3 linked regions of the Homo sapiens genome follow. The protein of the gene in region 1 purifies or fractionates together with the protein of each later gene. This does not show direct contact. Each region holds a gene or a part of one and is shown in the gene's direction. Other genes may lie near its edges. The genes, in order: PLVAP, NRP1 and FUT8.

Region 1 (3,650 bases):
GACACAGCAGTATCCAAGACACACCCAGTCCTGTCCTCATGAAACTCCCTGAGTAGTGGGTTAGACAGTGTCATGATGGGACTACCAAAGAGCCTACAATTATTAGGCACCTACTGGGAGCCCCACGCAGTTCTAAGTACTTTGCAAGATTAATTCATGTAATCTTCACAACTTAACAATAATAGTAGGGCAAACCACTATTCTACCCACTTTCCAGATGAGGAGAGTGAGGCACAGAGAGGGCATGCCCTGTACCCCAGGGAGCACAGCAGAGCTGGGACATGAACCCAGGCCATCGGACCCCAAACAGGCAAGAGAGAGCCTTGGTGAGGAAGAGCTGGAGCATGAGGAGCTGGCCTCAGGGAAAGCAGGGGGAACAGTGTTCTAGGCAGCAGGAACAGCCAGGCCAAAGGCCTGGAGGCTGGACGGGGGTGAGGGAAGGTAATGAGCAGAGGGAGAGAAGGGGGAGTGGCATCCAGGAATGAATCCTGACCTTTACTTTCTAGAAAATGAGTCTCAGCTGGGCACAGTGGCTCATGCTTGGAATCCCAGCTACTCAGGAGGCTGAGGCAGGAGAATTGCTTGAACCTGGGAGGCGGAGGTTGCAGTGAGCCGAGATCATGCCACTGCACTCCAGCCTGGACGACAGAGTGAGACTGTGTCAGAAAAAAAAAAAAAAAAAGAGGCCGGGTACGGTGGCTTACGCCTGTAATCCCAGGCCGAGGTGGGCGGATCATGAGGTCAAGAGATCAAGACCATCTGGCCAACATGGTGAAACCCCATCTCTACTAAAAATACAAAAAGTAGCTGGGCGTGGTGGTATGCGCCTGTAGTCCCAGCTGCTTGGGAGACTGAGGCAGGAGAATCACTTGAACCCGGGAGGCAGAGGTTGCAGTGAGCCGAGATGACACCATTGCACTCCAGCCTGGGAACAGAGCAAGACTCTGTCTCAAAAAAAGAGAGGCTGGTTGCAGTGGCTCACGCCTGTAATCCCAGCACTTTGGGAGGCTGAAGCGGGCGGATCACTTGAGCTCAGGAGTTCAAAACTAGCTTGGCCAACATGGTGAAACCCTGTCTCTACTAAAAAAAAAAAAAAAATACAAAAATTAGCCGGGTGTGGTGGTGGGCACCTGTAATCCCAGCTACTCCGGAGGCTGAGGCAGGAGAATCACTTGAACCCGGGAGGTGGAGGTTGCAGTGAGCCAAGATTGAGCCACTACACTCCAGCCTGGGCAACAAAAAATAAAAATAAAAATAATAAATAAAAAAGAGTCTCAGCTAGGCACTGTGGCTCACACCTGTAATCCCAGCACTTTGGGAGGCCGAGGTGAGAGGATTGCTTGAGCCCAGGAGTTCAAGACCAGTCTGGGCAACATAGCAAAACCCCCTCTGTACAAAAAATACAAAAATTACCCAGGTGTGGTGGTGCGCACCTGTAGTCCGAGCTACTCAGGAGCCTGAGGTGGGAAGATCGCCCGAGTCCAGGAGGTGGAGGCTGCAGAGAGCCAAGATCGCATCCCTGCACTCCAGCCTGGGAGACAGAGTGAGATCCTGTCTTGGAAAAAAAAAAAAGATAGTCTCTGAAGTCAAGGGCCTGGAAATGCTTTGCTAATTGCAAGGTGCCATCCAAAAATGACCGGAGCAAGGGACTAGGGGCCTCTGTAGGAAGCAGCAAGGGCTCCTGGCACACGCTCAGGTCATGGCTTGCTGCCTGTGCCCCCTGCCTCCTCCCAGAGTCAGTCACTTCTCAGAGGGTGGCCTGTGCGTCACAGGGATGGTGACTCAGGCCACCGCCCCAAGAATAGCCTGTGCTCTCTCTGGGGTCCTGCTACACCACTGACGGAGGAGTCAGGGCCTGGCATTGCTGTTTGCAGTTTAGGACCCGAGGCTCAGGAAGGCACCAGAACTTTAAGTCAGATCCCTTTGACCCCAACCACTGTGCCTATGACCATTTTGCCACGGAGCTATTGTCATTCTGGGTCTGTTGCAGCCTCAGAGGGCTAATATGGGATTTCTGGCCAAGTAGATTTCCGAAAGCTTTGCCGCCAACTCCCCAGGATGCATCATGTCCAGCTCCATTTCCACCTCTTCTTCTTTTTTTTTTTTTTCCTTCTTGCATACCCTCTCCAACAGGGAGCTCACTCCCTCGCCAAGCTGTCTCTCAACCCCTTTGCTCTAGATGGCTCTGTCTGGGAGAAAGTTCTCAGCCCTGAGCAGCCCACAGGGAGGGAAACAAAAAGGTGAGGAGGAGATTCCCCGCTCCAAGCAAACACAATTTTCCTCTCTCCATCTTGGCCGAAAGCCCTCATGGCAAGGAAGGAGGTTCTATTATTATCCCCACTTCTCAGAGGAGGAAACTGAGGCCCCAGGGAAGTGAGCAGCCTGGGGTCACACAGTGGAGAATCAGGGCCAGGCCCGGGCTCCCAGCCCAGGACTGTCAGGGCCTCGGCTGAGAACCAGGGAAGCTCTTGACATTGTTTACCCCGAAATGACGTCCACCTGCCGAGAAAACAATGTGTACTTAAGCCTGGACCTTGCCTGCTTCTCTCCTCACGGTCGCAGGAAGGGCTTCTGGCCTGCTGGCTTCTGCCCTTGACTCGCCTTCCCCTGAGAGAGGCCGGGGGCAAGTGGGCTGGGGCTGTCTGCTCTGGGTTAACTGGGCAACTTGGGGAGAGTCACTGGAATTTTATTTTTTTAATCATTATTTTTTTCGAGACAGGGTCTTGCTCTGTCACCCAGGCTGGAGTGCAGTGGCACGATCATAGCTCACTGCAGCCTCGAACTCCTGGGCTCAAACAATCTTCCTGCCTCAGCCTCCCCAGTGGTTGAGCCTACAGGTACACTCCACCATGCCTAGCTAAATTGTTATTTTTTTGTAGAGACAGGGGTCTTGCTATGTTGCCCAGGCTGGATTTGAACTCCTGGCCTCAAGTGATCTTCCTGCCTCGGCCTCCCAAGTAGCTGAGTCACTAGAATTTTAGATGCACCTAATGAGGTGCTGGGACAAGACTCAGCATTAAATCACCCACCTCATGCATCGGGAGAGTTGATTTTTCCTTTTCCACTCCTTTTTCTTTTTTTTGAGATGGACTCTCACTCTGTCTCCTAGGCAGGAGTGCAGTGGCGCAATCACAGCTCACTGCAACCTCCGTCTCCTGGGTTAAGCAATTGTCCTGCCTCAGCCTCCTGAGTAGCTGGGATTACAGGAGTGTACCACCACACCTGGCTAATTTTTGTATCTTTTTCTACAAAATTTGTAAAAATTTTGGGGTTTCACCATGTTGGCCATGCTGGTCTCAAACTCCTGGCCTCAAGTGATCCGCCCTCCTTGGCCTCCCAAAGTGCTGGGATTAGAGGTATAAGCCACCCCCTCCGGCCTCCACTCTTACTTCTTCTTCTTTTGTTTTTTTGTTTTTGAGACGGAGTTTCTCTCTCGTTGCCCAGGCTGGAGTGCAATGGCCCGATCTCAGCTCACCGCAACCTCCACCTCCTGGGTTCAAGTGATTCTCCTGCCTCAGCCTCCCAAGCAGCTGGGATTACAGGCATGCGCCATCACGCCCGGCTAATTTTGTTTTTTTAGTAGAGACGGGGTTTCACCATGTTGGTCAGGCTGGTCTCGAACTCCCGACCTCAGGTGATCCACCCACCTC
Region 2 (3,650 bases), on another chromosome or scaffold:
CCCAGGCATATTGTGCGTTAACATTTTCATCCCGTTTCTAGTACCAGGTAATTAGGCTCAAAGCTCCCATGTTAACAATTTCTCCTGTTCCACTCCAAAGAAAACAAGTCCCCAGTGACTGAGCTGCAGAGCAGTGCAACTGTCTCCAGTTAAACTACCAGGGCTGCAAAGATGCTGATTATTAGTAAATGTCTTCTATTTGGCATGACAGACATGGTTTCTCGATTTGAGCCACACTCTGTTTACATGTCAGCAGCAAGCATTCTCTTGTTCTAAAAAATCACTCCTTCTTTACTGAAACTACTGTAGACTTTGGGCAAAATTCGTTTCACTTGAAGATTTTCCATATGGGAGAACAAACACATGCATAAACCATGCCAGATCCTGGAAACAGCACCACGTAGAAGGGCAGCCATGAAGGTTTTTCTTGTGCCTGTTTTGGGGTTAGGTACATGCACTGGGAATGGTAAAATCCCCTTGCTAGACTAATGTGTGACTAAGCATTTTGCAAAACTTAATGATCACCTATCTAGCCAAGGACTGTAAACACAGATTACAATCTAGGACAGATGGGGCTGCATGAAATCTGAGTTAGATGAGCAAGGAACCTCCCAGTTGATCCAGAATGGGTTGTTTCCACGTGCTAAGCAGTCTGTCAGAAGCCCCAGCGCCCACTCCCCTCTACCACCTCCCACACTTCTGTTCCCAACAATGAGTCAGATATGACAGGCAAAACTGGGGTGTGTGATTTGCTCCTGTTTCGTTCCTTTCTATTTTTCTGTCTGCTTTCATCTGGTCTGTTGGCGGTGCTCACGGAGACAATATTGTTTTTTTCCATAGGGAGCACGCCAGGATACGAAGGTGAAGGAGAAGGTGACAAGAACATCTCCAGGAAGCCAGGCAATGTGTTGAAGACCTTAGACCCCATCCTCATCACCATCATAGCCATGAGTGCCCTGGGGGTCCTCCTGGGGGCTGTCTGTGGGGTCGTGCTGTACTGTGCCTGTTGGCATAATGGGATGTCAGAAAGAAACTTGTCTGCCCTGGAGAACTATAACTTTGAACTTGTGGATGGTGTGAAGTTGAAAAAAGACAAACTGAATACACAGAGTACTTATTCGGAGGCATGAAGGCAGACAGAGATGAAAAGACAGTCAAAGGACGGAAGTGGAAGGACGGGAGTGAGCTGGGGAGCTGTTGATCTTTCACTATACAGGCTGGGAAGTGTGTTGATGACCACTGAGCCAGGCTTTTCTCAGGAGCTTCAATGAGTATGGCCGACAGACATGGACAAGGAGCTGTGTTCACCATCGGACTCATGTGCAGTCAGCTTTTTTCCTGTTGGTTTCATTTGAATAATCAGATGCTGGTGTTGAGACCAAGTATGATTGACATAATCATTCATTTCGACCCCTCCTGCCCCTCTCTCTCTCTCTCCTCTCCCCTTTGTGGATTCTTTTTGGAAACTGAGCGAAATCCAAGATGCTGGCACCAAGCGTATTCCGTGTGGCCCTTTGGATGGACATGCTACCTGAAACCCAGTGCCCAGAATATACTAGAATCACCGCATTTCAGTGGACTCCTGAAGTTGTACTTGTGTATAATTGCCCGCGTCGTGCATAGGCAAAGAAGGATTAGGCTGTTTTCTTTTTAAAGTACTGTAGCCTCAGTACTGGTGTAGTGTGTCAGCTCTGTTTACGAAGCAATACTGTCCAGTTTTCTTGCTGTTTTTCCGGTGTTGTACTAAACCTCGTGCTTGTGAACTCCATACAGAAAACGGTGCCATCCCTGAACACGGCTGGCCACTGGGTATACTGCTGACAACCGCAACAACAAAAACACAAATCCTTGGCACTGGCTAGTCTATGTCCTCTCAAGTGCCTTTTTGTTTGTACTGGTTCATTGTGTTACATTAACGACCCACTCTGCTTCTTGCTGGTGAAAGCCCTGCTCTTTAATCAAACTCTGGTGGCCCACTGACTAAGAAGAAAGTTTATTTTCGTGTGAGATGCCAGCCCCTCCGGGCAGGCAAGGGCTCTGAAGATTTGGCAACGTGGCTTAATTGTTCTGCTTTTTCTGTAGTTCAATTTCATGTTTCTTGACCCTTTTGTATAAAGCTACAATATTCTCTCTTATTGTTCTTTCATATGGAATGTATTTTCAAATGTAAACTCTCTTCTCTTTCTCTCTCCTATCTCTCTGTCTTTTTTCTCTCTTAGAATTGGAGGATTTGCCATTGTCCAGGAAAGAAACTTGCAGCTTTAACCTGCTGGGAATGGCAAACGATTTTACTAGACTTTATGTTTAAAAATAAATAAATAAGGGAAATTCCTAACTTTGCCCTCCAAAGTCTAACTTTGGTTTTCTTGTTAACTGGTTAAAGTGACAGTATCTTTTTTCCTTATCTATTCTATTCAAAATGACCTTTGATAGAAATGTTGGCATTTAGTAGAAATAGTGATAAGTTGAGGAAAGAAATAATACAAATTGGCTTTCAAGTGAGACCCAAAGGAAGAACTGGATAAAATCTTCCAAATCCAAAAGCATGAGATTTTTCTATCCAAATATGCAAAAATGACCCAAGAGAACTTTCTTATTTTGCTACTGAGTCACACAAGGGAAGTGGAAGGAAGAACAGTTAATTTAAGAATGAAACTATAAATCCTGATGCCTGGGGGTCAAGTATTTTAAGATAAGAGGGGGAAAAACACATAAAGTCAAACAAATGTTTTAAAAATTCATAACAGCAACCTTGAAAAAATAGACTTAAATGAATGCTTCTAGAAACTTCCAGCGGCTCACAAAGAATAAGCCTGCCTTAGGGCTGGCAACATCTAAGCCTCTAACAGCACAGGGAAGCAAATATCTTACCAGGCAGCCTATGAATTAACCCAAAGAAGCTTTGGTTGGTTTTGGTGGATTTTTATCATGCCATGTTGGACATGAGATTTTTTAGATCTTCCTTCCCACATTGCTAGACGTCTCACTCAAAGACATTTGTTGGGAGTCACATTTGCATCATAGACGAGACAGTCCATTCATCTTAGTTAAATTGGATTGAGAATGCCTTTTGTTTCCAGGAAAATATTGATCACCATGAAAGAAGAATAGTTTTTTGTCCCCAGAGACATTCATTTAGTTGATATAATCCTACCAGAAGGAAAGCACTAAGAAACACTCGTTTGTTGTTTTTAAAGGCAACAGACTTAAAGTTGTCCTCAGCCAAGGAAAAATGATACTGCAACTTTAAAATTTAAAGTATCTTGCACTGATAAATATATTTAAAAATTATATGTTTATAAAGTTATTAATTTGTAAAGGCAGTGTTACAAAATGTTCAGTTTATATTGTTTTAGATTGTTTTGTAATTTTTAAAGGTGTAAAATAACATATTTTTTCTTTATGGAAATCTATAAAACTTTCTGTAGTAAAATGTTTTCATTTTACTGGTATATTATTGCTTCATGTTTTGTACCATCATAAGATTTTGTGCAGATTTTTTTTACAGAAATTATTATTTTCTATGACAATATGACACTTGTAAATTGTTGTTTCAAAATGAACAGCGAAGCCTTAACTTTAAATGACATTTGTATTCTCAGACACTGAGTAGCATAAAAACCACATAGAACTGAACTGTAACTTAAATT
Region 3 (3,650 bases), on another chromosome or scaffold:
CTTCTTTCTACACAGACACAGTAACAATCTGATTTCTCTTTCTTTTCCCCACATTTCCCCCTTTTCTTTTTGACAAAACCACCATCATCATCATGGCCTGTTCTCGATGGTCGCTGTCTCTTTGGAGCTGTTGGGTACACCTCCCAGATGGGGCAGCCAGGCAGAGGCACTCCTCACTTCCCAGACGGGGCGGCCGGGCAGAGGCGCTCCTCACTTCCCAGACGGGGCGGCCGGGCAGAGGCGCTCCTCACCTCCCAGACGGGGCGGCCGGGCAGAGGCGCTCCCCACTTCCCAGATGGGGCGGCCGGGCAGAGGCACTCCCCACTTCCCAGACGGGGCGGCCGGGCAGAGGTGCTCCACACTTCCCAGACGGGGTGGCCGGGCAGAGGCGCTCCACACTTCCCAGACGGGGTGGCCGGGCAGAGGTGCTCCCCACTTCCCAGATGGGGCGGCCGGGCAGAGGCGTTCCCCACTTCCCAGACGACGGGCAGCCGGGCAGAGGCGCTCCTCATTTCCCAGATGGGGCGGCCGGGCAGAGGCGCTTCTCACCTCCCAGACGGGGCGGCCGGGCAGAGGCGCTCCTCACCTCCCAGACGGGGCGGCCGGGCAGAGGCGCTCCTCACCTCCCAGACGGGGCGGCCGGGCAGAGGCGCTCCTCACTTCCCAGACGATGGGCGGCCGGGCAGAGGCACTCCTCACCTCCCAGACAGGGCAGCCGGGCAGAGACGCTCCTCACTTCCCAGACGGGGCGGCCAGGCAGAGACTCTCCTCACCTCCCAGATGGGGCAGCTGGGCAGAGGTGGCTCCTCACATCCCAGACAGGGCAGCTGGGCAGAGGCGCTCCTCACTTCCTAGACGGGGCGGCCGGGCAGAGGCGCTCCTCACCTCCCAGACGAAGGGCGGCCGGGCAGAGGCGCTCCTCACATCCCAGACGATGGGCGGCCGGGCAGAGACGCTCCTCACCTCCCAGACGGGGCGGCCGGGCAGAGGCGCTCCCCACTTCCCAGACGGGGCAGCCGGGCAGAGGCGCTCCCCATTTCCCAGACGGGGCGGCTGGGCAGAGATGCTCCTCACTTCCCAGACGGGGCAGCTGCCAGGCAGAGGCGCTCCTCACCTCTCAGACGGGGCGGCCTGGCAGAGGCACTCCTCAGTTCCCAGACGGGGCGGCCAGGCAGAGGCGCTCCTCACCTCCTTCTTTGTCCCTTTTTATAGTTTTTTTTTCTTGAAATCTATTTTGTCTATTACAGGTATAGCTACTCCTGCTCTTTTTTGGTTTTCATTGGCATGAAATATCTTTTTCCATCCCTTTATTTTTAGTCTGTGTGTCTTTATAGGTGAAGTATGTTTCTTGTAGGTAACAGATCATTGAATTTTGTGTTTCTTAGCTATTCAGCCACTCTATGTCTTTTGATTGGAGAATTCAGTTTGTTTACATTTAGTGTTATTAATAATAAGTAAGATCTTACTCCTGCCATTTTGTTATTTGTTTTCTGGTTATTTTGTGGTCTTCTCTTCCTTCTTTCCTTCCTTTCTATTTTCCTTTTAGTGAAGGTGATTTTCTCTGGTGGTTTGTTTTAATTTCTTGCTTTTTATTTTTTGTGTATTCATTGTATGTTTTTTGATTTGAGATTATCATGAGGCTTGCAAATAACTTATAGCTCGTTATTTTAAACTGATGACAATTTGGCACCGATTGCATAAACAAACATGCAATCAAAAAGAAGTCTAATAAATACTCTGTACTTTGTCCCCCCAACTTTTTAACTTTCTGTTATTTCTATTTATATCTTATGGTACCAAGTATGTCTTGAAAAGTTGTAGTTATTTTTGATCGGTTCATCTTTTAGTCTTTTACTTAAGATATCAATAGGTTACATACCACAATTACAGTGTTATAAAATTATGTGGTTTTTTGTATGCTTAGTATGACCAGTGAGGTACCTTCAGATCATTTTTTAATTGCCCATTAACACCTTTTTTCCTTCAAATTGAAGGATTCCCCTTAGCATTTCTTGTAGAACAGGTCTGATGTTGATGAAATCTCTCAGCTTTTGTTTGTCTGGGAAAGTCTTTATTTCTTCTTTAAGCTTGAAGGATGTTTTCACTGGATATACTATTCTAGGGTAAAAGTTTTTTTTCCCTCAGTAGTTTATGTCATACCACTCTCTTTTGGCCTGTAATGTTTCCACTGAAAAGTCTGCTGTCAGACATATTGGAGCTCCATGGTATGTTATTTATTTTTTCTTTTGCTGCTTTTAGGATCCTTTCTTTATCCTTGACCTTTGGAAGTTTGGTTATTAAATGCCTTGAATGGTAGTCTTCTTTGGGTTAAATCTGGTTGATGTATAACTTTCTTGTACTTGAATATTGATATCTTTGTCTAGAATTCGGATGTTCTCTGTTTCATCCCTTTGAATAAACGTTCTGTTCCTATCTCTCTCTGCCTCCTTCTTAAGGCCAATAACTGTTAGATTTGCCCTTTTGAAACTATTATTTAGATCTTATAGGCATGCTTCATTGTTTTTCATTCTTTTTTCTTTTGTCTCTGTTGACAGTGTATTTTCAAATAGCCTGTCTTTAAGCTTACCAATTCTTTCTTCTGCTTGATGACTTCTATTAAGAGACTCAGTATGTCAGCTGCATTTTTCAACCCCAGAATTTCTGCTTGATTCCTTTTAATTGTTTCAACCTCTTTGTTAACTTTATCTGATAGGATTCTGAATTCCTTCTTTGTGTTATCTTGAACTTCTTTGCATTTCCTCAAAATAGCTCTTTTGAATTCCCTCTCTGAAAGGTCACATATCTATGTTTCTTCAGGATTTGGTCCCTGGTGCCTTATTTAGTTTGTTTTTCAAGGCCATGTTTTCCTGGATGGTCTTGATGCTTGTGGGTGTTCATTGGTGTCTGGGCATTGAAGGTATTTATCGTAGTCTTCACAATCTGAACTCTTTTGTACCTGTCTTAGAAAGGCTTTCCAGATATTTGAAGGGAGTTGGCTGTTGTGATCCAGTTTTGGTCATTGCAGCCATATCTACATTAGGGGGCACCCCAAGCCCGATAATGCTGTGGTTCTTACAGACTTGCAGAGGTACTACCTTTGTGGTCTTAGATAAGGTCTAGAAGAATTCTCTGGATTACCAAGCAGAGACTCTTGTTCTCTTCCCTTACTTTGTCCCAAACAAACGAGTCTCTGATTCTGTGCTCCAAGCCTCTTGTAGTTGGGGGAGTGGTGACACAAGCACTTTTGTGGCTACCACCACTGGAACTACACTAGACCAGACCTGAAACCAGCATAGCACTGGATCTCACCCAAGGCCCAGTGTAACCCCTACCTGGCTACCTCCTGTGTTGGCTCAAAGTTCTAGGGCTCTATAATGAGCAGGTGGCAAAGCCAGTCAGGCTTTTATCCATCCCTTCAGGACAGCAAGCAAGTTCCCCTGGGCCCCAGGCAGGTCCAGAGATGCCATCTGGGAGCCAGCATCTGGAGTTGGAAACCTTAGAACCCTATCTGGTCCTCTATTCTCCTGCAGCTGAGCTGGCATCCAAACCATAAGGCAAAGTGCTTCCCACTTTTCACTCCTCTTTTCATAGGCAAAAGAGTCTCTCCCTATGGCCACCACCACTACAAGCCCACAGGGATTATTGCCAGG

The links.
Region 2: the proteins of PLVAP (region 1) and NRP1 purify together in Homo sapiens (affinity purification with western blotting; one study listed by BioGRID). This does not show direct contact.
Region 3: the proteins of PLVAP (region 1) and FUT8 purify together in Homo sapiens (affinity purification with mass spectrometry; 3 studies listed by BioGRID and IntAct, with this or other methods). This does not show direct contact.

What each region holds. Positions count from the first base shown.
Region 1 is NC_000019.10:17,356,726-17,360,375, reverse strand, and holds part of PLVAP (plasmalemma vesicle-associated protein), read left to right. Parts: intron 1-3,650. UniProt on the Homo sapiens protein: Endothelial cell-specific membrane protein involved in the formation of the diaphragms that bridge endothelial fenestrae. It is also required for the formation of stomata of caveolae and transendothelial channels.
Region 2 is NC_000010.11:33,177,556-33,181,205, reverse strand, and holds part of NRP1 (neuropilin-1 isoform a precursor), read left to right. Parts: intron 1-840; coding exon 841-1,130; 3' UTR 1,131-3,650. UniProt on the Homo sapiens protein: Cell-surface receptor involved in the development of the cardiovascular system, in angiogenesis, in the formation of certain neuronal circuits and in organogenesis outside the nervous system. Mediates the chemorepulsant activity of semaphorins.
Region 3 is NC_000014.9:65,716,626-65,720,275, forward strand, and holds part of FUT8 (alpha-(1,6)-fucosyltransferase), read left to right. Parts: intron 1-3,650. UniProt on the Homo sapiens protein: Catalyzes the addition of fucose in alpha 1-6 linkage to the first GlcNAc residue, next to the peptide chains in N-glycans.